Homo sapiens: one gene and its partners. The protein of the gene in region 3 purifies or fractionates together with the protein of the main gene of each other region. This does not show direct contact. Each region holds a gene or a part of one and is shown on either strand. Other genes may lie near its edges.

Region 1 (7,014 bases), on a different chromosome or scaffold from region 3:
ACTGTCTCTACCAGGACAATAACCAGGTTGTGTCTCAGGCTGAGGTCAAAGTTGGGACTCAGTGTGGGACCAAAGTCTGGGCCTGAGTGTCAGCATGAAGCATGTATCAGGTGAGATGCTCAGAGTCTGATCACAGGAGGGAGGCCATCTGCAGCCAAGGTGATGGGTCAACGTGGCATTCCTACACCCAGGAGAAAGCATCAGGTAATGAGTACCCAGGCACTGGAGAACTCAAGAACAAACATGGAGACTGCCCAGGGGAGAGATATGAGGGACAGGGGACAGCAGGAGATAGTCACTCATTTCTTTTTTTTCTTTTCTTTTCTTTTCTTTTTTTTTTTTTTTTGACAGGGAGTCTCGTCTCACTCTGTCACCCAGGCTGGAGTGCAGTGGCGCGATCTCGGCTCACTGCAACCTCTGCCTTCTGGGTTCAAGCGATTCTTTTGCCTCAGCCTCCTGAGTAGCTGAGATTACAGGCATGTGCCACAACACCTGGCTAATTTTTTTTGTATTTTAGTAGAGATGGCAGGTAGTCACTAATTCGTAAGGCCCTCCCAACTTTAAGGATGGTGATGGGTAGGCCAAGTAGCCCCCTGTTCCTCAGTATTCTAGTATCCCAGTATTCTAGTTCTGGTTTCCTGTTAAAGCCCCCGCTCCTGCTCCCACACACACACTAGTACTACCACATACAACTCATAGGTACAACTGGGGGAGAGAAGTGGCCCAAGGGCCAGTTCTGTCACTGCAGGGAGGTGGCAGCTGTGAGGGTAGTCTTCCTTCCCCCCAGGATTCTCTGTTTCTACTGGCAACAGGGCCTGGCAGCCTCCCACACCCAGATCTTAGCAACCATGGGAACCCCTGGCAACCATTACCATGGTGACAAGACAGGGAACTGAAAACAGGCTGGGGGCACTTCCTCTGCAGCCTTCGGGATGTGAGCAGGATAGGGGCTCCCTTCCCTATACAGTCTGGGAGGGAACATGTGCCTCTGTCTAAAACACCTCCTCACTGGCACCCACCCCCACCCCTGCCCACGGGTTCCGGTTCCCTCAGGGTGAGGAAATGAGGGACACCTAGGGTTATGACGTCTCCAAGGGGAGGGAGGGTGAGTGGGGGCGTTTGGGACTGGCATGATCGCAGATGCGTGCATACGCTGGCAGACATGGTGTCAATGTGTCAGTGCCTATATACCTTATCCACTCTTTGTCATGTAGACACATGCCCGCACAGTCATTTACTCACACATGTACACTGACCCAAAATCATATACCTACAACATATAACAGAATCAGGCACACCACCACACAAAAATAACTGCACAGATCCACTCACAAATCACATTACCAGTACCACACTACAAATAACTCCCAGACTCACAGATTTATAGATGCACTCGCACTCCCAGCATCTGTGAACATGTAGAGTAATGGTTAACTTGGTTGAGTTAACCAAGTTAACCATTGGTTGGGTATAAACTACATGCCCAGCTCAGAACTAAGTGCACTACCTGTGTTACCTTAATTAACCCTCTCAACAACCCCCTGAGGCACCAATCCCCATTTACAAAGGAGATGAGGCATGAGTGTGGCGTGTAAGCTCACAAGGTGCATAGACTCCAGACCACACTGTCACAGTCCATGCCACACTGAGCACTACACACACGTGACACCCAGGACAATGGGACTGAGGGCGGGAACCGAGGACTAGGCAAACAGTGGAGTCTGTGCCACCAACACCTGAAGGCACAGTTCTGCACCCTCAAAGGTCCGAGCCTACACTTTAGCATTAGCAGGGGCCAGGTAAAGGCTGGTGACTAAACTCTCTGCCTCCGTGTTGGCACAGGCAAGGCTGGGGGAGGCAAAAGAGACAGAACTGGAATAGGAAGAAGTAGAGCCACCCACAGCCTGGGCCCCACAGGTGTGGAGGTGGAAGAGTGAGAGCCCCCAGATCTGAGGAGCCAGCAGCGGTGCAGGGCCCCTCACCCCACCTTACCCATCTCTGTGTCACACAGAGATGTCCATCCCTCCTCCCTCCCCTCCCCCTTCCTCACTCCTCCTCACCCCATCTCTGTGCCTCATCCTTTCATTACTCACCCCTTCTTTCCTCATCCCTCACCCTGCCTTCCTGCCCCTCCCCAGCCCTTCTTTCCTTATCCCCCACCCTGCCTTCCCTCCCCTCCCCAGCCCTCCTTTCCTCTGCCCTCCTTACTCCCACCCTATGGCTCATCTGCCCCATGCCCCTCCCCTCCTCATCCCCCTCACCCCATCTCACCATCCTCTCACCACCCCCTCTCCCTACCTCCCCCCCTCAACCCCATTTCCTCAAATTCCTCATGCTCATTTCCCCACATTCATCACCCATCTCTGCTCCCCTCCTGGCCCCCAACCCCACTTCCTTTCCATCCTCCTTTCACCCCAAGTCTCTTTCTTCCTTCACACCTCATGCCCCTTTACCCTTGGGAGCCCCATAGTGACTCCTGGCATGAAGGTAGGTAGTGAAGAATCTACAGACATGACTCCAGGACCCTGGCACCCCCCCCCCGCCTTGCTCTGCTCTTGGCCCAGGTACTCAAGCTGCAGTTTCTAGCAAGACCTCATGGGTGTCCAAACTCTGTCTCTGGAAAATAGGAAAGAAAGAAGTAAAGGGGAGCTTCCGGCCTGACCCTTCTATCATCATCAACCCCCCAGCACTCCCCTCCCCCACTTCACCCCCAAATTACTCCCTCCCCACCCCCGCTCCCTCGAGCACAGATGGGCCTGGGAGACAGTGACGTGGGCGCCAGGCACCGTGTCTGCTGGAGTGGCGGCTTCCGCTGGCGACCGCCTCCGCAGCCCCGCCTGCTCCCTGCATCGGGGACACTGGGGCTGAGATCTAATGACTTAATGGGGGGTGGGGGAGACTAGAGATTCTGAGGGTGTTAAGGAAGGGGATCTTGGGGAGTGAGATGAAAGATGAAAGGGGAGAGCTAGGATAGGAGATCGGGGTGTAAAGAAAGAACCAAGAATAAGACAAAAGGGATCACTGCGGGAAGGAAGACAGGAGATCATCTAGGGCCAAGAAGGAAAGGGCTAAAACACAGGCACTCCAGGGGGAAGCAGGATGAGAGACTGATTAGAAGAGGGACTGAAATGGAGACCGCGGGGTCGCTGAAGAGGGGCGCGAGGATGAGGGGCTGTACAGAGGGTGGGCGGGGGAGATTCCTGGAGGCACCGGCCTGGGCAGAGCCATCCGTTTCCCTCGGGGGAGAGGTCCGGGGGGCTCTGAAACCCGGCATCCGTGGGGTCTGTTAGAGATTCCGTTAGGTCACATCAGGCCACCGCGGGGTCAGGATAAGGTAAAGCTAAATGAGGTCAGCTTGAGGTGGTTACACCGTTGGCTGAAAGGCGAGTAAGAAGTGCTGACCTTTTGGCCCCGGTCCAGGGACTACACCTCCCAGAGTGCACTGTTCTCTCCCTCTTGCCCCCCAATGAAGAAAGGAAAGAATGCACGGCCGCACGGCCAACTGGTGGGTACAGTTTTCCTTTAAGGCTGCCTTTGACGTCGCAAGGGTTCCAGAAGGTTCTCCTGGGATTCGAGCAGTGGCCAGTACGTCCCACCTTCTCAACCCGGAGATTGGACTAATATAGTTTGCCCCCGGGCTCGGGTCTGAGTCTCAGGCACGAACCAATAAAATCAAAGGGCGAGCGAGGTTGCCGCCCTCTGTCTTTTTCACCAATGGCACGACAAGATGGCAAAGAGGCGTGGTTGAGTGATCCCAGAGGGCGCCAATCAGATCCACACCAATCACTGCCTGGAATGTGTGCGCGTGTGGCCGGGTGACAGGGGCGGAGGATGGGCGGCTATCACCAAGCCGCTTGTTGAAAACTGCCCAATCACAGTGGAGGCTGAGCTGAGTGACAGGAAGACGGTTCAATGGGCGGCGCGGAGGCGGAGCCGTGGGGGCGGGCTCCCGGTCCCGCTATCGGCGGCCGGCGGGCAGGCGACTCCTGTCCCGGGTGGAGGCGGCGGAGCCGGAGCCGGGGGAGGGGGCAGCGGCTGTCTCACGGACCACGGCGGCGCCCGCAGCTCCTCACCGGTGAGGGCGCCAAGCCAGGACTCGGGGGTCCCGGGAGCGGGGCGTCGTGAAGCCAGGGCTCCTGGTGTTGGGGGGTTGGGACACTGAGGGCCCGTAGGCTCTGCTGCCTTGGGGATGCGGGGCCCCGGGGTCTGCAGGGTGCTCGGAGTCCTAGACCAGGGCTTGGCTGTCACAGGGGGCAGCCAGCGTCTGAGTCGGGGAGGGGAGGGGAGGGGAGGGTCGAGTCGGACCGGACCAGATTGGGTTCTGTGGGGCGGAGGCATCTGTGAGCAGACCAGCCAGCCAGCGCGGGTGACATCACCGACCACCCTCCCCCGCCCGAGCCCCCTCCCCTCCTCTCCTCGCCGCGCCTTTTGTCCCGGCCGAGCTCCGCTCTGCCCCGCCCATCTGCGAGGGAGGAGACTCCCGTCAGTGACTTCATTGAGTAGGTTCTTGGGGATTGGGGTCGGGTCCTCCCCAGTGAGAGGCGACAGGAGCTCACTGCCTCTCGGGCCCTCACAATCACACCTGTCACAGGTATACACGCTGCCACTCACAAACACACGCTTGCACTCCCAGCCTCACTGACACGCTGCCATACAGCCGCTCACAGCCAGCCAGACACTGCTGCACCTGAGAGCAGGTGGCCGCGGGTCTTCTCCCTTCACTCTCCACATTTGGGGATCAGGTCCGGCACCTGCTGCGCCAGACAGGCCTTGCTGGGCACGCGCCTCTGAGAGTCCAAGGAGGTGGCTTCCAGAGCTGCAGCACTTCAGGCCGGCTCCGGTGGAGCGATCAGAGGTGAGGGGCTTGGCTGGGCATGTTTAAGCGCACAGTGCTCTCCTGCCCACCCCCAGCAGCACCCCCACTGCAGGCCCGAGGAGCTTTCCGGAGCTTCCCACACTCCTGGGGAGAAGACTTCTTAGCCAGCTTGATGTTTAAAATTCAGCTGGAGCCCTTAAAACTTCGAGCGTGGACGCTGAATGGGTTTGTAAAGTTTCGGTAAGTCCCTCCGGAGAAGGGCACTCACACCCATACCCAGTCAAACCCTCCACGCGGCCATCCCCTCCATTGCCTTCCTGCTTCCTCCAACTCATCCTCATCCCCTCTGTGACATACAGGAACCCCCCTCCGGCCTCACCCACATATTTGAATGAATTGCACCCCTTATCATTCCTTTTCTCAAACCCTTCAGGTATCCATTTTCCACAGACATTTCCTCCATTATTTCAACTCTCCACATTCCTCCCTTTCAACCCATCATTAACCCATTTTCCACCTCAGCCATTTCCATCTGTCACTCATCCCCCTCCATCAGTACCTCATTTTCTGTATCAGCCATCTCCCCTCCCTGTACCTCAACAGTCCCCCTCGCCATTTTCTCCCCATTTTTCCTTCCTGCCTCTACCTTAACATCCTCCTCATTCTTCTCCATCAAAGGCAGTGCCATGCCATGGGGCTCCTTTGTCATTCCAACACGTGGCCTGTGGGTAGGGGGGAAGGGAAGGAGGGAGGAAAGCAGAAAGAGAAAAAGGAGGCAGATCCTGAAAGAGCTTGCCCTGTGTCTGCGGAGGCAAGAGATGTATGGGCCTAGAGCAGCTAGCAGGTGGGTACCAGGGAGGAAGCTGGCCGGGTGTGGAGGTAATGCAGGGACACCAAAAGGAGGTGGGTGGTTGGTGAGCCGTTCCACTGGCCCTCTGCCTGGAAGCTGCTCTCGTTCTCTAGGGGCACCCTCTTGGTGTGCTAGGGTTCTTTCCCAGTCCCAGGGGAAAGAAGGTGTGGGTTGAGGCAGAAATGGCAGACCACCCCCCCCCGCTCCCTCTCAGACGGCTTTTGCTGCCATTTCCGAAAACGGTTGCCCCCCCCCCCAACGAGGTGCTCTTTCTTCTCTGCCTCTCCCAACCCCACCCCCCACCCCATCTCCCCCACAGACGTGACATGCTGGTGGGGGGCAATGGGGGAGTACCCGCCTTTGTGGAGCCTTTTCTTCGTCAGAGAAAGGTGACTCCCAGAACCATGAGTCAACCCAGCCACCTGCAGCAGGGCCTGTGGGGGCAGCAGTGAGGGCCATTGTCCCTGCCCACCTAGGGCCTTGGGCGCCTCCCCCTTACCCGGTTACAGGCCTCACTCCTGGAAGGACACCCTGTACACCTCCCTGCTGTGAAGCAGTCAGAGGCAGAAAGGCAGGTCTCAGCTGTGGCTGCCAGCCTAGGACATTGCTAGAAAGACTCTGGTTCTCCTGGCTTTGGCAGGGGTTGGCCAAGTCTCAGAAGGGCTGAGAATGGCTTCTGGCCATCCCCCAGAGAGCTCTAGCTACAGGAAAGTCCCCCTTCCCCTGATATCCACCACAGACACACCGATAGAGGGAGACTGGAATGGAAGAATTCGGGTTGTACGTTTCTCTTATAACAAATGCTCCTGCACCCACCTTAAAAGGGACTCAGAGGAATATGGGTCTGATGATGGGCCGGATCCTAAACCACAGGGTGGACTGGGGGCGTAGGGTGAGGCTAGGAGAGGTATTAAGGAAATGGTGGTTGGTTAGTGCCCAATTGTCTCCTAACAGCTGGGGTTGAAAAAGTCCTGTCCCCAGGATGCTTTTGTTCACTCACACTGGTGCTTAGGCGGCACAGCCCTCACAGTTTTGTGTGTAGACGCTGGCAAATGAGTAAAGGGAACTGTTGCCCTGGTTGGGGGAAGGATAGTGTCGCCCCCCCTGCTAATGAGGGAGTTGGAAACAGCAGTTTCCAAAGGCTGTGAGTCACCCTGTGATCTGAGTCACACGTGAGGCTTAGCATCGTCAGAGGGGTGGGGGCGGGGAGGCCTGGGGTCTCCGATGGCAGACAGGACTCCAGACACCCATTCCCTGACTCAGTCTGGCTGGCCAGGACAGCTGGCGGAAGACCCAGGCCTGTTCCCGGTCCTGGGCCACTGCCCCAGCTGCCCTCAGCCTGGGCACC
Region 2 (7,028 bases), on a different chromosome or scaffold from region 3:
CACGCCATTCTCCTGCCTCAGCCTCCCAAGGAGCTGGGACTACAGGCGCCTGCCATCTCTCCCGGCTAATTTTTTGTATTTTTAGTAGAGACGGGGTTTCACCATATTAGCCAGGATGGTCTCCATCTCCTGACCTTGTGATCTGCCCGCCTTGGCCTCCCTAAGAGCCGGGATTACAGGCGTGAGCTACGGAGCCCGGCCTTGAGTTACTTCTTACTTTTAGCTATTATGAATAATGTTGCTATGAATATGGGTTTTCAATTCTTTTGGGTATTTACCCAGAATTGTAATTGCTGGATCATATGATAATTCTATTTTAAAGTTTTTGAGGAACCGACAAACTATTTTCCACAGTGGCTGGACCATTTTACATTCCTACCAACAGTGCATAAGGGTTCCAATTTCTCCACATCCTCACCAACGTTTATTTTCTGTTTCTTTTTTTTTTTTCAAGTAGCCATCCATTGGGTGTGAGGTGCTATCTCATTGTAGTTTTGATTTGTATTTCCCTAATGATTAATGATGTTGAGCATCTTTTCATGTGTTTACTGGCCATTTTGTGTATCTTTGGAGAAATGTCTGTTTAAGTCCTTTGCCCATTTTTAAATTGGTTTGCTTTTTTGTTGTTGAGTTTTAGGAATTTTCTATATATTTTGGATATTTTCAGATACATAAACGGCAAAAATTTTTTCCCCATTACTGTGGTTTGCCTTTTTACTCATTGATACCGTGTGGTCTTTTCCTTTCTTTTTCTTTTTGGAACCAGTGCATGGCCTCTTTGTTGATTCTGTGTTTGGCCCCAGTGCAGCCTGTTCTGTGCTATGTGTCTGCAGTGCTGAAACCAGGCCTACCCAGCACCATACAGAAGTCCAGGCTGTAGATACCAATGCATGGGTCACATTTGATACCCAAATCTGTGTGTTCCTGGATCTCCAAACCAAAGTTTCCAGTATCTGAGAAGTTGTTCTTTCTTGATTCACACTCCTGCATCTTTAGACCTTTCTTCAGGGTTTCTTCTGCTTTGGCCCTTTGTGCAGTGGGTGGCAATCTTCACTTCTCCTGATGCCAAAGGATCTGACAATGTATTTGACTTTGGAGAACACAGGGGTCTGGCCTATGAGCTGCTCCAACACCTTGGCTGCTGGGGTCAGTCATCTCCAGTCTCCTCCATACAGATGTTGAGACAGAAAATCGTTCTGTCACCCAGGCTGGAGTGCAGTGGCACAGTCTCGGCTCACTGTAACCTCTGCCTGTCAGGTTCAAGCAATTCTTATGCTTCAGCCTCCCAAGTATCTGGGATTACAGGTGTGCACCACCATGCCTGGCTAATTTTTTGTATTTTTAGTAGAGATGGGGTTTCGCCTTGTTGGCCAGGCTGGTCTTGAACTACTGGCCTCAAGTGATCCACCCATTTTGGCCTCCCAAAGTGCTGGGATTATGAGTGTGAGCCCTCATCTGGCCAGAGTTCTCTTTTTTTTACCTTGATCTTGCACTATGATGGAGAAAAGGAAGATAAAGTCTTTTTTTTTCCCTTGGGTTTGTTTGTTTGTTTGTTTGTTTGTTTTTTGAGACGGAATTTTGCTCTCGTTGCCTAGGCTGGAGTGCATTGGTACGATCTTGGCTTACTGCAACCTCCGCCTCCTGGGTTCAAGCCATTTTCCTGCCTCAGCCTCTAGAGTAGCTGGGATTACAGGCATGCGCCACCACGCCTGGCTAATTTTGTATTTTTAGTAGAGATGGGGTTTCACCATGTTGGTCAGGCTGGTCTTGATCTCCTGATCTCAGGTGATCCGTCCACCCTGGCCTCCCAAAGTACTGGGATTACAGGCGTGAGCCCGTGCCTGGGCTATTTTTTTTTTCTCCCCTTTAAATATAGTATCTTGCTTTATTGCCCAGACTTGTTGTGAACTCCTGGACTCAAATAGTCCTCCTACCTCAGCCTTCCAGGTAGCTGGGATCACAGGGATGCTGTCTTTTGATACACAAACATTTTAAATTTTTATGAAGTCCAGTTTGTCTTTTTGTTTTTGTTCCCTGTATCTTTGGTGTTATATCCAAGAAATCATTGCCAAATCCATTGTTGTGAAGCTTTTGCCTTATGTTTTCTTCTAAGAGTTTTATAGCTTTAGGTCTTACATACATTTTTGATCCATTTTGAGTTAATATTTGTATATTGTGTTAGATAAGGGTCCAACCTCATTCTTTTGCATATGGATATTTAGTTTCCCAGCACCATTTGGTGAAAAGCTTGTCTTTTTCTGATTGAATGGTCTTGGCAACCTTATTAAAAATCATTTGCTCATATGTAAGAGGGCTTATTTCTAAGTGCTGTTATGTTCCATTGGTCTATAAGTCTGTCTTTATGTCAGTACCACATGGTTTTGATTATTGCAGCTTTGTAGTAAGTTTTGAAATCAGGAAGTGTGAGTCCTCCAGCTTTGTTCTTTTTCAAGATTGTTTTGGCTATCTGGACTCCCTTGGGATTCCATATGAATTTGAGGATGAATTTTTCTATTTTTGTAAAACACGTCATTGGGATTTTAATAGGGATTACATTGAATCTATAGATCACTTTGGGTAGTATTGGCATCTTAACAATATTAAGTCTTTCAGTTCATGAACAAGGGATGTGTTTCCATTTATTTATGCCCCTTAATTTCTGCCAGCAGTTTTTTTTTGTTTGTTTTTGTTTTGAGATGGAGTTTCGCTCTTGTTGTCCAGGCTGGAGTGCAGTGGCACAATCTTAGCTCATTGCAACCTCCACCTCCCGAGTTCAAGTGATTCTCCTGCCTCAGCCTCCTGAGTAGCTGGGATTACAGGTATGTGGCACCACGACCAGCTAATTTTTGTATTTTTACTAGAGACAAAGTTTCACCATGTTGGTCAGGCTGGTCACGAACTCTTGACCTCAGGTGATCCACCCACCTTGGCCTCCCAAAGTGCTGGGATTATAGGCGTGAGCCACTGCGCCTGGCCTCAGCAGTGTTTTATAGTTTTCATTTTATAAGTCTTTCACCTCCTTGGTTAAATTAATTACTAATATTTTATTCTTTTTGGTGCTATTTTAAATTGAGTTGTTTTTGTAATTTCCTTTTTAGATTGTTCATTCTTAGTGTATAAAAATGTAACTGGAGGCTGGACGCAGTGGCTCTCACCTGTTATCCCAGCACTTTGGGAGGCAAGGTGGGCCTCCCAACTCCTGATCACGAGATCAGGAGTTCAAGGCCAGCCTGGCCAACATAGTGAAACCCTGTCTCTACTAAAAATACAAAAATTAGCCATGCATCGTGGCGCGTGCCTGTAGTCCCAGCTACTTAGGAGGCTGAGGCAGGAGAATCGCTTGAACCTGGAAGGTGGAGGTTGTGGTGAGCCAAGATCGTGCCACTGTACTCCAGCCTGGGCAACAGAGTGAGACTCTGTCTCAAAAAAAAAAAAAAAGAAAAAAGAAACGTCGCTGGATTTTGCTTGTTGACTTTCTATCCAGCTACTTTGCTGAATTCACTTATTAGTTCTAACAGTTTTTTTTTGTGTGTGTGTAATTTTAGAGTTTTCTTTTCTTTTTTTTTTTTTGAGATGGAGTCTCGCTTTGTTGCCAGGCTGGAGTGCAGTGGCGCGATCTCGGCTCACTGCAACCTCTACCTCCCAGGTTCAAGCAATTCTCCTGCCTCAGCCTCCCGAGTAGCTGGGACTACAGGCACACGCTACGACGCCCAGCTAATTTTTGTATTTTTAGTAGAGACGGGGTTTCACCATGTTGGCCAGGATGGTCTCGATCTCTTGACCTCGTGATCCACCTGCCTCAGCCTCCCAAAGTTCTGGGATTACAGCCGTGAGCCACTGTGCCTGGCTTTTTTTTTTTTTTAATTAACTATTGAACTTCTGTTTATTATTATTATTATTATTTATTTATTTATTATTTTTTGAGATGAAATCTCGGTCTGTTGCCCAGGCGGGAGTGCAGTGGTGTGATCTCGGCTCACTGCAACCTCCGCCTCCCGGGTTCAAGCAATTCTGTGCCTCAGCCTCCGGAGTAGCTGGGATTATAGGCGCTCGCCACCATGCCCGGCCAATTTTTGTATTTTTAGTAGAGATAGGGTTTCATCATGTTGGTCAGGCTGGTCTTGAACTCCTGACCTCGTGATCCGCCCGCTTCGGCCTCCCAAAGTGTTGGGATTACAGGCGTGAGCCACTGCACTTGGCCTTATTTTTATTATTTTTTTCATCAACTTTTAAGTTCTGGGGTACATGTGCATGATGTGCAGGTTTATCACATAGGTAAACCTGTGCCATCACAGTTTGCTGCACAGATCAACCCATCACCTAGCTATTAAGCCCAGCATCCACTAGCTATTCTTCTTGATGCTCTAGCTCCTTTTGCCCCACTGAATTTTAGGGTTTTCTTTCTTTTCTATTTTTTTTTCTTTTGAGACAGACTCTCGCTCTGTCACCAGGCTGGAGTGCAGTGGCACAATCTTGGCTCATTGCAACCTCTGCCTCCTGGGTTCAAGCGATTCTCCTGCCTCAGCCTCCCGAGTAGCTGGGACTACAGGCATGCGCCCATGCCTAGCTAAGTTTTTGTAGTTTTAGTAGAGACAGGGTTTCACTATGTTGGCAAGGCTGGTCTCAAACTCCTGACCTCAAGTCCCCTTGGGGTTCCTGAAGTACTGGGATTATAGGTGTGAGCCACCACGCCCGGCCAGATTTTCTATATAAAAGATCATATAATCTGCAGACAGATAATTTTACTTTTTCCTTTTCTTTCTTTTTTTCTTTTTTTGAGATGGAGTCTCGCTCTGTCGCCCAGGCTGGAGCGCGGTGGCGCCATCTCTGCTTACTGTTACCTCTGCCTCCTGGGTTCAAGCAGTTCTCTGCCTCAGCCTCCCAAGTAGCTGGGATTACATGCACATGCCACCACGCCCAGCTAATTTTTGTATTTTTAGTAGAGATGGGAGTTCATCATCTTGGCTAGGCTGGTCTTGAACTCCTGACCTCGTGATCCATCCGCCTTGGCCTCCCAAAGTGCTGGGATTACAGGCATGAGCCACCGCTCTTGGCCCTCAACCTTTTCCTTTTCAATTTGGATGCCTTTTATTTTTATTTTTCTTCCTTTTTTTTTTGAGATGGAGTCTCGCTCTGTTGCCCAGGCTGGAATGCAGTGGTGCAATCTCTGCTCACTGCAACCTACGCCTCCTGGGTTCAAACGATTCTCCTGCCTCAGCCTTCCGAGTAGCTTGTACTACAGGCATGTGCCACCATAAACAGCTAATTTTTTTTTTTTCTCGTATTTTTAGTAGAGACGGGGTTTCGCCGTTTTAGCCAGGCTGGTCTCGATCTCCTGACCTCGCGATCCGCCTGCCTCAGCCTTCCAAAGTGCTGGGATTACAGGCGTGAGCCACCATGCCCGGCCCTTGTTTTTCTTTCTTGCCTAATTACTCTAGCTAGAACTTACAGTATTATGTCGAATGGAAGTGGCAAAAGTGGGCATTGGGCATCCTTGTCTTGCTCCTGTTCTTTTATTTGTTAGTTTGTTTGAGATCCTCCTGCCTCAGTTTCCTGAGTAGCTGGGACTATAGACACACTACTACACCCAGCTAATTAAAAAAATAATTTTTTTTTTTTTTTTAGAGATGGGGTCTCGCTATGTTTCCCATGCTGATCCTGAACTCCTGGCTTCGGGTGATCCTCTACTCTTACCCTCCCATAGTGCTGTGATTACAGGCATGAACCACTGTGCTGGCCCTGTTCTTGTTTTTAGAGGAACATTCTTCAGTCTTTGACCATCAATTATGTTTGCTGTGGGTTTTTCATATGTTGCTTTTATTTTGTTGAGGTAGTTTCACTCTATTCCTAGTTTGTTGAGCATTTTTATGACTAATGGGTTTTGAATTTTGTCACATGCTTTTCCTGCATCGATTGACATGATTCTGTGGTTTCCTTCATTCTGTTAATGTGGTATATTACATTGATCAATTTTTACATGTTGGACCATCCCTGTATTCCAGGAATAAATCCCACTTGGTCATGGTGTATAATCCTTGTGCTGCTCAGTTCAATGTGTTGGTATTTTGTTGAGGATTTTTTTTTATCAGTGTTCATAAGGGATAGTGATCTGTAGTTTTCTTGTAGTTGCCTTTGTCTGGCTTTGGTATCAGGGTAATGCTTGCCTCACAAAATGAGTTGGGAAGTGTTCTCTCCTTTGCCAGATTTTTTCTGGGAAAAGATTGAGAAGAACTGGTATTAGATCTTCTTGAAATGTTTTATAGAATTCACCTATGAAACTATCAGATCTAGGGCTTTTCTTTGTCAGGAGATTTTTGGTTAGTGAGTCCATCTCTTTACTGGTTATAGCTCCATTCAGAATTTCCATTTCTTTGTGATTTAGTCTTTGTAAGTATTGTGTTTCTAGGAATTTGTTCAGCTGGGTTATCCGATTTGTTGGCATACAATTGTTGAAAATACTCTTTCAACAATAAGAGAGAAGACACAAATAACTAGTTCTTTTGTTTCCAGTTCCTTAAGTTGTAAAGTTAGGGTGTTGATATGAGATCTTTCTTGCTTTTTAATGTAAGCATTCATAGCTATAAATTTCCCCCTTAGCACTGCTTTTGCTGTGTCCCGTAAGTTTTGGTATGTTGTATTTTCATTTTCATTAATCTCTAAAATTTTCTAATTTTCCTTGTGATGTCTTTGAACCCTGGTTACTTAAACACACACACACACACACGTGTGTGTGTGTGTGTGTGTGTGTGTGTGTGGTTTTTTGTTTGTTTTGAGACTGAGTTTCGCTCTTGTTGCCCAGGCTGGGGTGCAATGGCGCGATCTCGGCTCACTGCAACCTCTGCCTCCCGGTTCAAGCGATTCTCCTGTCTCAGCCTCCAGAGTAGCTGGGATTACAGGCGCCTGCCACCACGCCTGGCTAATTTCACACACACATTTAAAAAATACATCTACCTGCTTTTACTTCAGAATCTTTGCAATTTCTGTTCTCTCTGCCTGAAAATTTTTTCCACCAAAATATCTACAGGGCC
Region 3 (6,605 bases):
ACAGAAAAAGTCTGCTGACCTCTGCTTTGGATCATGACTGAAAATTATACATTATGTGAAAATTTACTATTACAGCAATGAATAACTGATTTTTGCTGAAGGTGACAAAAATTAATTTTGTGGAATACAAAATAATTCCTGAAATATGTATGTCTTTACATTATTACTCATCCATATATTGCTAGCCCATAAGAACACTCAGACATGCAGAGTCATAATTAAACTCAGTCATCTTTGATATTTTGCTTTCAATAATATTAAAACCATCACTTTACACATATCGATTTTGCTTTTATAAAGGTATAGTTGTCAAAATAGAAGATAGAACATATTTAACAATTTTTTTTGCTTTGACTTATAATTTTTAATTATCAGGCATATGCTCTGTTTGTATTCTTGTTCTGGGCCTCTTAAATGTTAGAGTGGGAAGCCTGGATGAGGCCTGGTAAGCATGTCAACACTTAGATGTCAGGAGCCATTTTTTGCTCTGTTGGGGCCTTATGTTCTGAGCAAAGCCTCTGAGAAGTTCTACCAATGCTTAATGAGTTCAGCAAAGCCTACCTGTCTGCAGCTACCACAGGGCAGTGAGAAAAAAACCAGCAGAGCACCTGCTATGAACTAAATTGCATCCTCTGAAAATTCTTATGCTGAAACCCAAACACCCAATTTGACTATATTTGGAGATAGAGTCTTTAGGAGGTAATTAAAATTAAATGAAATCATAAGAGTGGAATCTTAATCTTATAGGACTATGTGTTTATAATAAGTGAAATCAATCTTTCTCTCTCTCTCTCTCCTTTCGCTTTTTCATGTGAGAAACACAGTGAAAAGGTAGCCATCTGCAAGATAGAAAGAGGGTGCTCACCAGAGACCAAATCCTGCTAGAACCTTGGTCTTAGACTTTCCTGCCTCCAGAACTGTGAGAAAATAAATGTATGCTGTTTAAGCCACCAGTCTACAGTATTTTGATATGGTAATCTAAATACAATAAGACAGATTTTGGTATTGAGAAGTGGGGTGCTGCTGTAAAAAATACCTAAAAATGTGGAAGTGGCTTTAGAACTGGGTAATGAGTAAAGGCTAGAGTCTTGCAGCACATCCTAGAAATATGGACATTTAGGGCAATCTTGGTAAGGTCTCACAGAGAAATAAAGAACAAGATACTGAAAACTGGAGGAAAGGTGATTTCTGTTATATGGTGGCAAAGAACTTGGCTGAACTGTGTCCTAGTGTTTTGCAGAAGTTAGAACATGAAAGTGAAGAAATTGGATATTTAACTAAGGAGATTTCTAAGCAAAGTGTTGAGGGATTGGCTTGGTTTCTCCTGACTAATTATAGTAAAATGCAAGAAGAGAGAGATGAATTAAAGAAGGAATTGTTAAGCAAAAAGGAACCAGAACTTAACAACTTGGAATATTCTCAGCCTATCCATATTGCAAAAAATGAAACTTGTCCTGAAGAGAACACTAACCCTACAGCTGGACAACCATTTGATGAAGAGATTGTGGGTGGGACTCATGAGTATAATCAGCCATCTCAGCGGAAGCCAGGAATAGAAGTGGGATTATATGAGCAAAAACACTAGTTTGAACTAAAGGAGACAGAGAAAGCTACACAGAATGAAGGAAGACTTTTGAAGTTCTTGGATTCTCAGGAGCAGACCATTTACCTATTTGGCTGCTAATTGCACTGTTATTCAAGGAAAAATAAGAATAACCATGAAGGCATTTATAGATAATCAGGGCTGACACTTCTACCACAGGCCCAGGGGGCAAGGCTGTTTCTACCTCAGTTTCAAAGGGTGATACCACCTCTCCAGTTTCAGTGGGCCAGGGTGACCCCGCCCTGTGCCTCAGGGGCAAGGCAGCCTTTATAGACAATCCTTTGGGCTGGACCCTCTCTGATAACTGAAGGGGCAGGGCCCTAGCAGAGCCATGAAAGTGACACTGCCACCCAAGTGGTGGGTAGAGTGTTTAACCAAAGAGGATTATTATTGAGCCTTAAGATCTCATGGAATTCGCCTTGCTAGGTTTTGGACTTGCTTGGGACTCACTACCCTTTCTTCCTTCTGATTTCTTTCTTTTGGAATGGGAATGTCTATCCTATGCCTCTGGCACCATTGTATTTTAGAAGCACATAACTAGTCTGGTTTCATAGGTTCACAGCTAGAGAGGAATTTTGTCTCTGGATGAATCTTACCTTAGTCTCACCAATATATAATTTACATGATATTTAGATGAGACTTTGGACTTCAGACTTTAAGAGTTGATGCTGGAAAGAGTGACGACTTTGGGGACTGTTGGAATGGAATGAATGCATTTTGCATGTGAGAAAACATAAATTTGGGGCGAACCAGAGGGGTTAAAACTCTCTCCTTAATTAAACTTTAGACAGGCTCTTCTAAGCCCTCTTTTTGACCTCATCCTTGCTAAGTCTAGTTTTAGCAGGAGTTTAGCTTAAGTCACTTTAGTGAGAATCCCCTGCTCTTGATATCCAATCACCTTCAATATCTGATCACACTCTTCTTCCCCACCCTTGATATCTGATCACCCCAGCCTACCTTTAGCAAGAATCTTGTTAAGTTGGTTTAACAAGAATTCATCTACCCTTGATGTATCTTCTTAGTAATTTTTCATCCACTGACCACTTTGCTCTGCTCCTTGGCTATAAATCCTCTTGCATTTACTGCATTTAGAATTGAGCCCAGACCAGGTGCAGTGGCTCACAGCCGGGCGTGGTGGCGGGAGCCTGTAATCCCAGCTATTCAGGAGGCTGAGGCAGGAGAATCACTTGAACCCAGGAGGCGGAGATTGCGGAGGTTGCAGTGAGCCTAGATCGTGCCACTGCACTCTAACCTGGGTGACAGAGTGAGACTCTGCCTTAAAAAAGAATTGAGCCCAGTTCTATCCTGAGGTCTTTTTGCCCCATTGCCATAGTTCCTGAATAATATCTGTTTTACCTCTTTTATTACTGTCCAGCTCTGGTTCTGTTAGGCAAATGCTATAGACTGAATTTTGTCCCCCTACCCAATAAAATTCATATGTTGAACTCCTAACCCCCAATTTCACTACTCTTTCACTACTGTCCAGCTCTGGTTCTGTTTAGCAAATGCTATAGACTGAATTTTGTCCCCCTACCCACTAAAACTCATATGTTGATGCCCTAACCCCCAATTTGACTGTATCTGGAGATAGGGTCTTTAGGAGGTAATTAAGGTTAAATGAGGTCATAAGGGTGGGTCCCAAATAGGATAGGATGTGTCCTTGTCAAAAGAGATCTCTCCAAGCCCTGCTGCCATGTGAGGACACAGTGAGAAGGCAGACATCTGAAAGCCAGGAAGTGAGCCCTCACCAGAAACCAACCCTGCTGGAAACTTGATCTTGGACTTCTAGCCTCCAGAACTGTGAGAAAATAAATGTCTATTGTTTCAGCCACCCAGTCTATGGTGTTTTGTTACGGCAGCCCGAGGTGAGTGAGACAGCACCTCTGTGTATCTGAGGCTGAGGTGTATGCTTGTGTGCAATCACATGCATTATTTCCAGAGTCGAGGTGCTAGAGGAAGTTGGTGTGGACTAGAGAAGCAGGCCTGAAGACACAGAGCCTGTGTGGCATGGTTATTAGGACTTTTGGTGAGTAAGGCAGAGTTGAGACCAACGGTGGGAGAAAGAGACTGCCACAGGCCTCTGCTTCTGCTGGGCTTTGTCTTGTTCTCTCTTTAGATTTCTTTCTCATTGGCAATGTGTGTAGCTTCCAAAGTGAGGTGTAGGCTGTGGACTTAGTCTATTGATTGTACCACAGCCCAACAAATAAATGATACTGTATATTGTTAACTCCTTTTTCCCATCTCTATCTACTCAGGAAGGCTTAGTGTAGCTGTTTGGGTAGAGAGACAAAAACTGGATTCTTCCACAATAAGCTTCTTGACCAGCAGGTGAAGAAATAATCCTTGCAAGAGCCCAGATCCAGCTTCTTGTGAGACAATGGCTGAGAAGAAATGATAGACGGGCCTGCAGAGGCCTACACGTCTGATTTTCATCAGTCCCTTTAGGATGTGCTATGGTTTAAATGTGTCCTCCAAAAGTTCATGTGTTGGAAACTTAATTACCATTGTAACAGTATTAAGAGGTAGGGCCAGAGGAGGAAAGGCTGAAGGCGTGAAAAGGCACGCAGGCGCACTGCACGGACCGCCCCCCTGCTGCTGCGCACCTCACGTGGCGCATGTTACGCCAGGTACCACACGCCACGTACTGCACACCACGTACCACACGCCACGTACCACACACCACGTACCACACGCCACACACATTATGCCACGCACGTTACGCCACGCACGTTACGCCACGCACGTTACGCCACGCACGTTACGCCACGCACGTTACGCCACGCACGTTACGCCACGCACGTTACGCCACGCACCTCACGGCAGCCCTACACTCGGCCTGGAAGAATTGTTTTTCTTCTCTGGAAAGGTGAACATTTATAGCATTTATTTCCCAAATCTGTTAACATGGCAAAATATGTCAGTCTCACTGAAGCTAACGAAGAACTCAAGGTCTTAATGGACGAGAACCAGACCAGCCGCCCCGTGGCCGTTCACACCTCCACCGTGAACCCGCTCGGGAAGCAGCTCTTGCCGAAAACCTTTGGACAGTCCAGTGTCAACATTGACCAGCAAGTGGTAATTGGTATGCCTCAGAGACCAGCAGCATCAAACATCCCTGTGGTAGGAAGCCCAAACCCACCCAGCACTCACTTTGCCTCTCAGAACCAGCATTCCTACTCCTCACCTCCTTGGGCCGGGCAGCACAACAGGAAAGGAGAGAAGAATGGCATGGGCCTGTGCCGTCTTTCCATGAAGGTCTGGGAGACGGTGCAGAGGAAAGGGACCACTTCCTGCCAGGAAGTGGTGGGCGAGCTGGTCGCCAAGTTCAGAGCTGCCAGCAACCACGCCTCACCAAACGAGTCAGCTTATGACGTGAAAAACATAAAACGGCGCACCTACGATGCCTTAAACGTGCTGATGGCCATGAATATCATCTCCAGGGAGAAAAAGAAGATCAAGTGGATTGGTCTGACCACCAACTCGGCTCAGAACTGTCAGAACTTACGGGTGGAAAGACAGAAGAGACTTGAAAGAATAAAGCAGAAACAGTCTGAACTTCAACAACTTATTCTACAGCAAATTGCTTTCAAGAACCTGGTGCTGAGAAACCAGTATGTGGAGGAGCAGGTCAGCCAGCGGCCGCTGCCCAACTCAGTCATCCACGTGCCCTTCATCATCATCAGCAGTAGCAAGAAGACCGTCATCAACTGCAGCATCTCCGACGACAAATCAGAATATCTGTTTAAGTTTAACAGCTCCTTTGAAATCCACGATGACACAGAAGTGCTGATGTGGATGGGCATGACTTTTGGGCTAGAGTCCGGGAGCTGCTCTGCCGAAGACCTTAAAATGGCCAGAAATTTGGTCCCAAAGGCTCTGGAGCCGTACGTGACAGAAATGGCTCAGGGAACTTTTGGAGGTGTGTTCACGACGGCAGGTTCCAGGTCTAATGGCACGTGGCTTTCTGCCAGTGACCTGACCAACATTGCGATTGGGATGCTGGCCACAAGCTCCGGTGGATCTCAGTACAGTGGCTCCAGGGTGGAGACCCCAGCAGTCGAGGAGGAAGAGGAGGAGGACAACAACGATGACGACCTCAGTGAGAATGACGAGGATGACTGACGTCCTCTCGCCTTAAGATTCAGCTTCAGGAAAACATTTAGGGAAAAGAAACTTTTTTTTTTTTTTTAATGTGAGGTTTTCTGTTTCTTTTTTGCCTACTCCCAAGAAGATATTGGTAAGCTATAGAATTTAGATATGCACCTCTGATAAGCAAGGATTGTTTCCCGTATGATTAAGACGTGCTGTTGATGTGTGTTTTGATACCAGTGTGCTGACACAGAATCTTTATTTACTTTTTAGGATTTTGTGTTTTCATTTTCTATTTTTCTTTAAATGCAGAGTTCATTGTTGCCCCTTAACAGTTTTTCCTGAGTTTACTGAAGAAATTGTACTTCATCCACATCCATGAAAATAAAATGCTCTCCTTTTGTGCACAGTGAGTACCGAATGCCGTTTATTTGCCTTGGATTTGGATGGCACCCCCACTGATGCATAGCAAGACTCTTGAGTTTTCCATTTGTTCAGTTTTGCAGTGTCCAGAGCCCCAAGCAAACGGCAGAATTCTATTTTCAGAACAATAAACACCATCAATCTTAAAAAAAAAGAGGTAGGGCCTTTAAGAGGTGATTAGGCCATAAGGGCTGTGCCCTCATCAATGGATTAATGCTGTTATAATAGGAATAGACTCTTGATAGAAGGATAATTTCAACCCTGTTCCTCTGTCTTGAATGCTTGCTTGCCATTCTGCCATGTTAGGACACAGCAGGAAGGTCTTCACTAGGTGCCAAGCATATGCTGGCACCATGGCTTTGGACTTCTCAGGCTCCAGAACCATAAGCCAAATAAATCTATTTTTCTTTATAAATTACCCAGTCTGTTATAGGAGCAGAAAACGAACTAAGACAGGATGGCTGAAGGCTCCTAGCCGGCAATCAATGCA
Region 4 (7,028 bases), on a different chromosome or scaffold from region 3:
GATCTAAACTGTAAATCCTCATTTTGTAGATGTGGAAACAAGAGGTCCAAAGAGTACGTCATGTTTATTTTGAGTCCTTCACATATCTTTTTCACCATACTGAACACAGAGAATTGTAATTATTTCACATTAGAGTATGAAATTTGCAGAAATGCCATTACAAATATATCTTAATTGACACAAACTTGATCAACAGGAAAGCTAATTTAAAAGCTCTGTGAAAATTATTGAATACAGTGAATCAAAAGAACATTCTGTAAATAATTAATATTCAGACAAAATCTCCTCTAACATATACCTCCAAATAAATGAATGAAACACAGATTTTACCCACCTCCCGTATGACTTGCTGCAACTCATCTTGCTCCACATTTTTATGCATTTCCTCAGCAGCTGGCATTGATGGGAGTTTTCCATGCCCTTCTTCCACTTCAGATTTAGGTCCTACAACTTCTGGGGCTCCTTCAGCTGCATCAACTTCCTCAGAACTTTCCAAATCTGGAGGTGTCTGCACAGAGCCTGTTCTAGAAGGAGCTGTTGGCGTTAGAGCCACCGATGCTCGGAACACTTTCTTCCTTGCCACTAATGGGGTTTTGGATTTGCCCACTGAGGCAGTAGAAGGTACTCCAGTTCTTCTGTTAGCATGAGAGGGACCAGAACATACAGAAGATGATTCTGATGTTGCTTGGGAAAAAACAGATTCTGAGCTTTCTCCAGGAGGAATTTCAAATCCCATTTCTCCAAGTCCCAGGCCCAATTCAGACTTCAGGTATGACTGCTCCTGCATCAGTTCAGTGACCTGGAGATCATAAAAAAATGTTATTCTTCTCTCTTGGAATTAAGATTGGTAGCTAAAAAGGTTAAAGTCCTGGTTGTCATTATTGCCTAAAATCATGTAATTTGTAAAGACATAAATCTATTCCATTAATTTAATAACTACTCAATTTTATTTGCAAAAATGGTAAGTAAAATTTAAATTCCTATTGAGATGAAGCAACAAAACAGGTAAACAGAATACATAGTAGGATGAAATTTTACTTGTTACCACCAAAGTGTCCAAATCACTTGTAAGGAAGAGTAACTAGTGAAAAATAGTTACTCATAGTGCTTTTGCCCCCAAATGAACCAATCTGTCTAACACAATAAAGACAGATTTCTGTTAAAAACGTGGTCATGTTACAGCTCTAACTACCTAAAGAACCAGGATCAAACTGTGAAAGCACATGTCTCCTGAAATGTAAATTAAAAATCAATTTTCTTTTTTTTTTTGAGATGGAGTCTCACTCTGTCACCCAGGCTGGAGTGCAATGGCTTGATCTCGGCTCACTGCAACCTCCGCCTCCCGGGTTCAAGCAAGTCTCCTGCCTCAGCCTCCCAAGTAGCTGGGATTACAGATGCCTGCCACCATGCCCAGCTAATTTTTGTATTTTTAGTAGAGATGCGGTTTCACCATGTTGGTCAGGCTGGTCTTCAACTCCTGACCTCAGGTGATCCACTTGCCTCAGCCTCCCAAAATGCTGGGATTACAGGCATGAGCCACCACACCTGGCTTATTATTTTTTAAAGACAGGGTCTTGCTCTGTCACCCAGGCTGGAGTGCAGTGGCACAATCATAGCTCACTGTAGCCTTGAGCTCCTGGCCTCAAGCAATCCTCCCGCCTCAGCCTCCTGAGTAACTGGGACTACAGGCACATATCACCATGCCTGGCTGATTTTTAAATTTTCTGTAGAGAAAGGGTCTCATTTTGTTGACTAGGCTGGTCTCAAACTCCTGGCTTGAAGCAATCCTTCCACCTCAACCATTTAAATAAAGTGCTGGGATTACAGGCATGAGCCACTGTACATGTTTTTATGGTGCATTACCTCCTTTAGTCAGAAAGATAAATCACTATTGCAATTCAGGTGGCTTTCTAGTGGCTTCAGACAGCAATGGACTTTCAAAGGTGAAAGTCACTTCCAATCAACAATAATTTATCAAATTATGTATTTAAAATAAACATATATTTCATCTAAACTAGGGAAACTATGTGTCTGAAATGTTGTATCATTCCCTTCCCCAGTGATTTAAGAGGAAAGAAGCTTACTGGTTCCATTACATTCAATGGAGAAGGGCATGACAAGTTATCAGCGCTTCTACTGCCACACATTCCCTGAAAAGGTAAGAACAATATATATATGTATATGTGTGTGTATATATACATACATGCATATATAATTATAATGTACATATATATTTTTTCAAATCACAAGACTTTTATAATAAAATTAATTGGCTAATTAGTGCCTGGAAGCATCCCTTTATGTCACAAAGGTTACTCTCAAGTGTCACAGATCCCATAAAATGCATTATTGTGAGTTAAAACTGATACAATATGCAAAAAGGATGTTCTAGTTCTCCCGTCACCAACATACACTTCTCAGAATGATAAATCAAAACCATGTTGAAAAGTACATTCATTAGCAATACAGAACATCCTTAGTCTATGCTATACATATATGTGTTTATACACCATTGTTTATTCTACTTCATTTATAGTATATACACACATAATTGTATGTGTGTATATTCATCCATTTCTTTTTAACAAAATCAAATACATTGTTAAGGTAACAAAGAATAATTCACTATTTCAGCATTTCAAAGCAACATATTCTACAACTTCAAAGATATTTGCAAAAATAATACAACTGTTGAAGTTCAAATGTTATGGAAAGAAACATTAGAAGTATGAAAAGTGGTACAAAAACATGTTTCTTTTTATTCTCTTGGATATATATCTATATATTTAGGAAAATACATATATGTATGTGTATGTATATATATGTATGAAAATATACAGGTATCATTTGATTCCTTTAAAAACAAATGGAAAAGAATCCAAAATAAAGAAAAAGTTTAAAAGGAACACTTTTTTATTTAAAGGCATGAAAGAAAAAAAAACAGCAAAATATGCATCTGTGTTCTCTGCAGTTACATGCAACAATTAAAATTTACATTAGTCATATGTTAATTCACTAGCATTTTTCCTTTAAAAACCCTCAACTTTCGTATAAGCCCTTATTCTTTCCTGTTATTAAAATTTATCATTAAAAATTTTCAACATATTTCTAAATATACTATTTATGACAATTATTACAAATTGTACATTCAACTGATTTGTGGGAAAGCTCCTTAAACAGTATGCATGCTTTTAATACCATTAAAATAAATGACTTGAAATGAAGGCACACGTCCTAAATTATTGGAACATTATAAATAAACCTTTGGTGAAAACTCCGACCACCCTCCAGGTAGCGTACCATGAGTGCGGAGGAGCGGAAGGGTGAAGGCATGCGCACAGCACGAAGCTGCTCCTCCAGGCCCAGCAGGCGCTCCTCCAGCTGCAGTTCCAGGTCCTGAAGTTCCATTCGGACTGAATTTCTCAAACCCTGGAGCTGATCAACTTCAAACCTATTGGTATGGTGAAGGGCACAAAATTGGAAAAATGCAGTTTGGAGATTCCTAATCACAAATCTTTCAACAACTACTATATGCTAACAGAAGGCATGGAAATCTCAGGTTCTAGAAATTAGTACAATATCAACTACAATAGGTGTATCCACAAGGACATTAGTCTTTCTTCCCCTATCCTCTCACAAATATCTCAAACACGGGAAAGCAGGTTACCACTACCCTTAGGATATTGAAGGCATACAAGTTTACTTAGTAAAACACTATCTATGACTAATCTTATCTACACTGGTTCACAAAACAGATACAAGGTACACAGCAGTAGAATCAAAACCTAATTTTAAAAAATATAAGTTGAGAAGACTTTGAATGAAAAGCTTTTTGAGGTGTGCTAAGACAAAATGAACTTTTACCTCTCCTCCTCAGTCATATGATGATAAACCATGGTTTGCTGACGCAGCATTGCCAATTCTAAATCCATCATTTGTGTTCTAAACAAATTCAGGCTCCGCCTCATTACCTGGAGCTCCTGAAAAGTATTCTAGAATGCAATATAACAAAATTACACTTCTAAATTCTACAAATTATTTTGGAACACAAAGATGTAAGAAAGAACTTACTTCATAAAGAGGTAGAACAGATGATTTCTGAGTACTATATGGAGCAGCAGCAGGATCAGGTCCTCTCATCATAGGGTACTTCAAAAAAGTAAAAGTAGGATTAAAACCAATGTTAAAGTGAATACTTCCAAATCACTTAAGGGGTTAAAAGGCAGAATTTGGGGCCTATATATTTTTCTCTTTAAGACAAAAGGATCCAAAAAACCTTCATATTGTAAGCAGGAAAAAAGAAATCAGTTCCCAATGACACCTAGTACTGCTAGCTGTTCCAGGTATAAGTCAATCTACGTGGGAGGAGGAGGCGAAGGAACATAGTTCACATCTATTTCTTTCAGGACTTCCCTCTTGCGAAACTAAAAAAAAACAAAATCAAAACGCAAAAATGTAGAAGCCATTGCAAATATCATCATGAGATTATAGTGATTATTAACTTTGCTGGAGAGCAAGCAATCATTGTCGTCTTTCTCAGACATCTTAGCATTTCCTATATGCCACTATTTTAGGCAGTGAGATAAAAACATAAAAGGTATTCCCAGCCTTCAGGTGTTCTCACAGTGTAAAGAAAAATAAAGGAAATTTTAAAAAAATTCTAATACTGTGGAAGGAGTGCTATGATGAACACAGAAAAATTCAGATTACGTGAACTTTCCCAAAAGTGGTAACACTACTTGAACTGAGCCTTAACAGTAAATAGGGCTTGATTATGCAAAGAAAGGCAAAGACTGGGTGATCTCGGTTAAAAAAAAGTGGCTTATAGTCCCAGTACTTTGGGAGGCCAAGGCAGGAGGATCACTTGAGCCCAGGAGTTCAAGACTGCAGGGAGCCATGATTACACCACTGTCTCCAGCACTCCACGTGGGCGAGAAACAGAAACTTCATCTTTTTATTTTAAAAAAACAAAACACAAAATCAGCCATGTGCAGATACCTAAGAACACACAACTGTTTAGAGACCTGTGCACAATCCTACAGCTAAGGAATGAGGCTGGAGAGATAGTCAGAGACCACATCATAGAAAGCACCTGTCCACTAGTGTAGGGTGGGGTAGGCATGGGGAGATGTATTAGCTGAGTTATTGCTGGGATATCCAGGAGAAAGAGACCACAGCTGGAGCAGAAGAACTAGGTGGCCTAGAAAGATGCACCACGGTACTGGTGGACAGGGTCCTGGAAATCCCCAGCTTGACATAATCACAGCTGCAAGTTCCATCACAGACAGAACTATATTTTGTAAGGAGGAATAAGAAACACCCACATTCTGTTTAAACAGAAAACTGTTAGGGGACAATTGTCATGAGGATAAAACTTACAGTTAAGAGGAGGTATATCTTATTATAACTTGAGAAGTTACACCTTTGATTTTTACTTTCCAAGTGGCTCCCTGTCTACTATGTCATGATAAGAGGTCTATTACATTCATTCTAGGCCTCCTGACTCTTTGTTGAATGCTCTCATGACTATATTACATTGTCATTTTCTTCAATCCCTCAATTGTCTAAACATGATTCATTCAGAGAGAATGTTCAAGAAAATGTAAAAGGCAAAACTGAAGACAACGTACTTATTTTCAAAATTTTTTTGGGAAAATTATTTCCAGTCTACTAACAAATCTGAGAATGACTTTAAAAGTGACAAGACATACAGAGCATTTTAAATCAAATTCACACTTTACCTGATTTGTTATTTTCTGGTCTGGAGTAGTTCCAGTCTTTGAGTCCAGTGGAAGTAGACTAACTCTGTGCACAGCATCGAGGGTCAGTAGGTGAAGGGGAAAGCTTAGTCAGAGAGCTACGAGCAGAACCAGGAGAACGTGGTGCCACAGAAGCCAACAGGGAGAAAACTTGGAAAAGGAAAAGGTAGTCAACATGTTCAAATAGCAGAGAGAAAGAGAGAAAGAACTTTAAGAGGGAAGATTTTTTAATAATAGAAATGACAAAAGATTCTAGACTAAAACAAAGACAGTGGATGATAGACTAAAAATGGGAGGATACTTAACGAGAAAAATCTCTCCTCTTGGAAAGGAGACAGACTTGTGAGCAGAGAAATCGACTTTGATCAGGGTTAGTTACAGCTTCTCCCTTGAAACAGGAGGGAAGATAGAAAACGAAGGCAGATGCAGATTAAGTTTAGACATGTCAGAAAATAAAGCTGAGGTAGTTCATACTTGATGTGCCTTAGCTTCTCTGTGAATTAAAAAGTGCTCAGAGCAGTAAAAGAAAAAAGCTAATGATAACATACTTTTTCTCATACCTGTGAAAGATTCTGCAGTGAGTTTCTAATATCATGTAATACTCTTCGCAACTGCATTTCTATGGCTGAAGGAGGATTCACAGAGCACACTCGGTAAGGGTAGGTGGCATGTCTATGTGAGTAAGGACACCCGAAAGGGGAAGCGAAGGCACTACAAGTAGCCCCTGATATGTTGGGAACACTGTGAGTGCTCAGAGTTCTTGTGTGCTCACACAGGGGCCTTTCTTGCCACTCAGAGTGGATGGAATGAAGGGAACAGGTAGACTGAGACATTGGTGGTGGAGCAAGCCGTGAACAGGTAGGAGTCCTTCCATGATGGCATTCCTCCACCCGCGGCGCCTCACTCTGGGGGGCTTCTTCTTTCTTCACAGATGATGGAGAGATGAAAATGGTCGATTTAACTAAAGACTGACCATCATGTTCCATCACCCGCTTTTCCAATTCCTGCTCCTCTTCAGGTGTGTACTTATAGGTGAAGGAAGGTGGGCTGCATCTGGTCTCTTTTCCTGGAGATAATCGAACATTGACAGAGGACACAACCCTTACTGGGCTCAATAAGGTGGTTGGTAAAGACTGAGACCTTCTTAGAGGATAGCCAGCTTTTGCAAATAAGTACCTTTGTTTTAACAAATCTTTTGATTTTAGCAGGCTACGCCCCATCCTTTGATTAGACAGACTGCAAACCTTCATTTGAGCTCTTTGCAAAGCT

Evidence for each region.
Region 1: the proteins of TFDP3 (region 3) and DNAJB5 purify together in Homo sapiens (affinity purification with mass spectrometry; 3 studies listed by BioGRID and IntAct, with this or other methods). This does not show direct contact.
Region 2: the proteins of TFDP3 (region 3) and KIF11 purify together in Homo sapiens (affinity purification with mass spectrometry; 3 studies listed by BioGRID and IntAct, with this or other methods). This does not show direct contact.
Region 4: the proteins of TFDP3 (region 3) and ITPRID2 purify together in Homo sapiens (affinity purification with mass spectrometry; 3 studies listed by BioGRID and IntAct, with this or other methods). This does not show direct contact.

The regions. Positions count from the first base shown.
Region 1 is NC_000009.12:34,985,757-34,992,770, forward strand, and holds the start of DNAJB5 (dnaJ homolog subfamily B member 5), read left to right. Parts: upstream 1-3,988; 5' UTR 3,989-4,075; intron 4,076-4,533; exon of another isoform or gene 4,534-4,742; 5' UTR 4,743-4,874; coding exon 4,875-5,056; intron 5,057-7,014.
Region 2 is NC_000010.11:92,596,102-92,603,129, forward strand, and holds part of KIF11 (kinesin-like protein KIF11), read left to right. Parts: intron 1-757; exon of another isoform or gene 758-1,188; intron 1,189-7,028. UniProt on the Homo sapiens protein: Motor protein required for establishing a bipolar spindle and thus contributing to chromosome congression during mitosis. Required in non-mitotic cells for transport of secretory proteins from the Golgi complex to the cell surface.
Region 3 is NC_000023.11:133,216,162-133,222,766, reverse strand, and holds TFDP3 (transcription factor Dp family member 3), read left to right. Parts: upstream 1-4,412; 5' UTR 4,413-4,507; coding exon 4,508-5,725; 3' UTR 5,726-6,105; downstream 6,106-6,605.
Region 4 is NC_000002.12:181,915,719-181,922,746, reverse strand, and holds part of ITPRID2 (protein ITPRID2), read right to left. Parts: coding exon 6,320-7,028; exon of another isoform or gene 6,148-6,319; coding exon of another isoform or gene 6,061-6,147; exon of another isoform or gene 5,910-6,060; coding exon of another isoform or gene 5,850-5,909; exon of another isoform or gene 5,742-5,849; intron 4,425-5,741; exon of another isoform or gene 4,277-4,424; intron 4,150-4,276; coding exon 4,072-4,149; intron 3,993-4,071; coding exon 3,865-3,992; intron 3,452-3,864; coding exon 3,301-3,451; intron 2,151-3,300; coding exon 2,085-2,150; intron 800-2,084; coding exon 335-799; intron 1-334.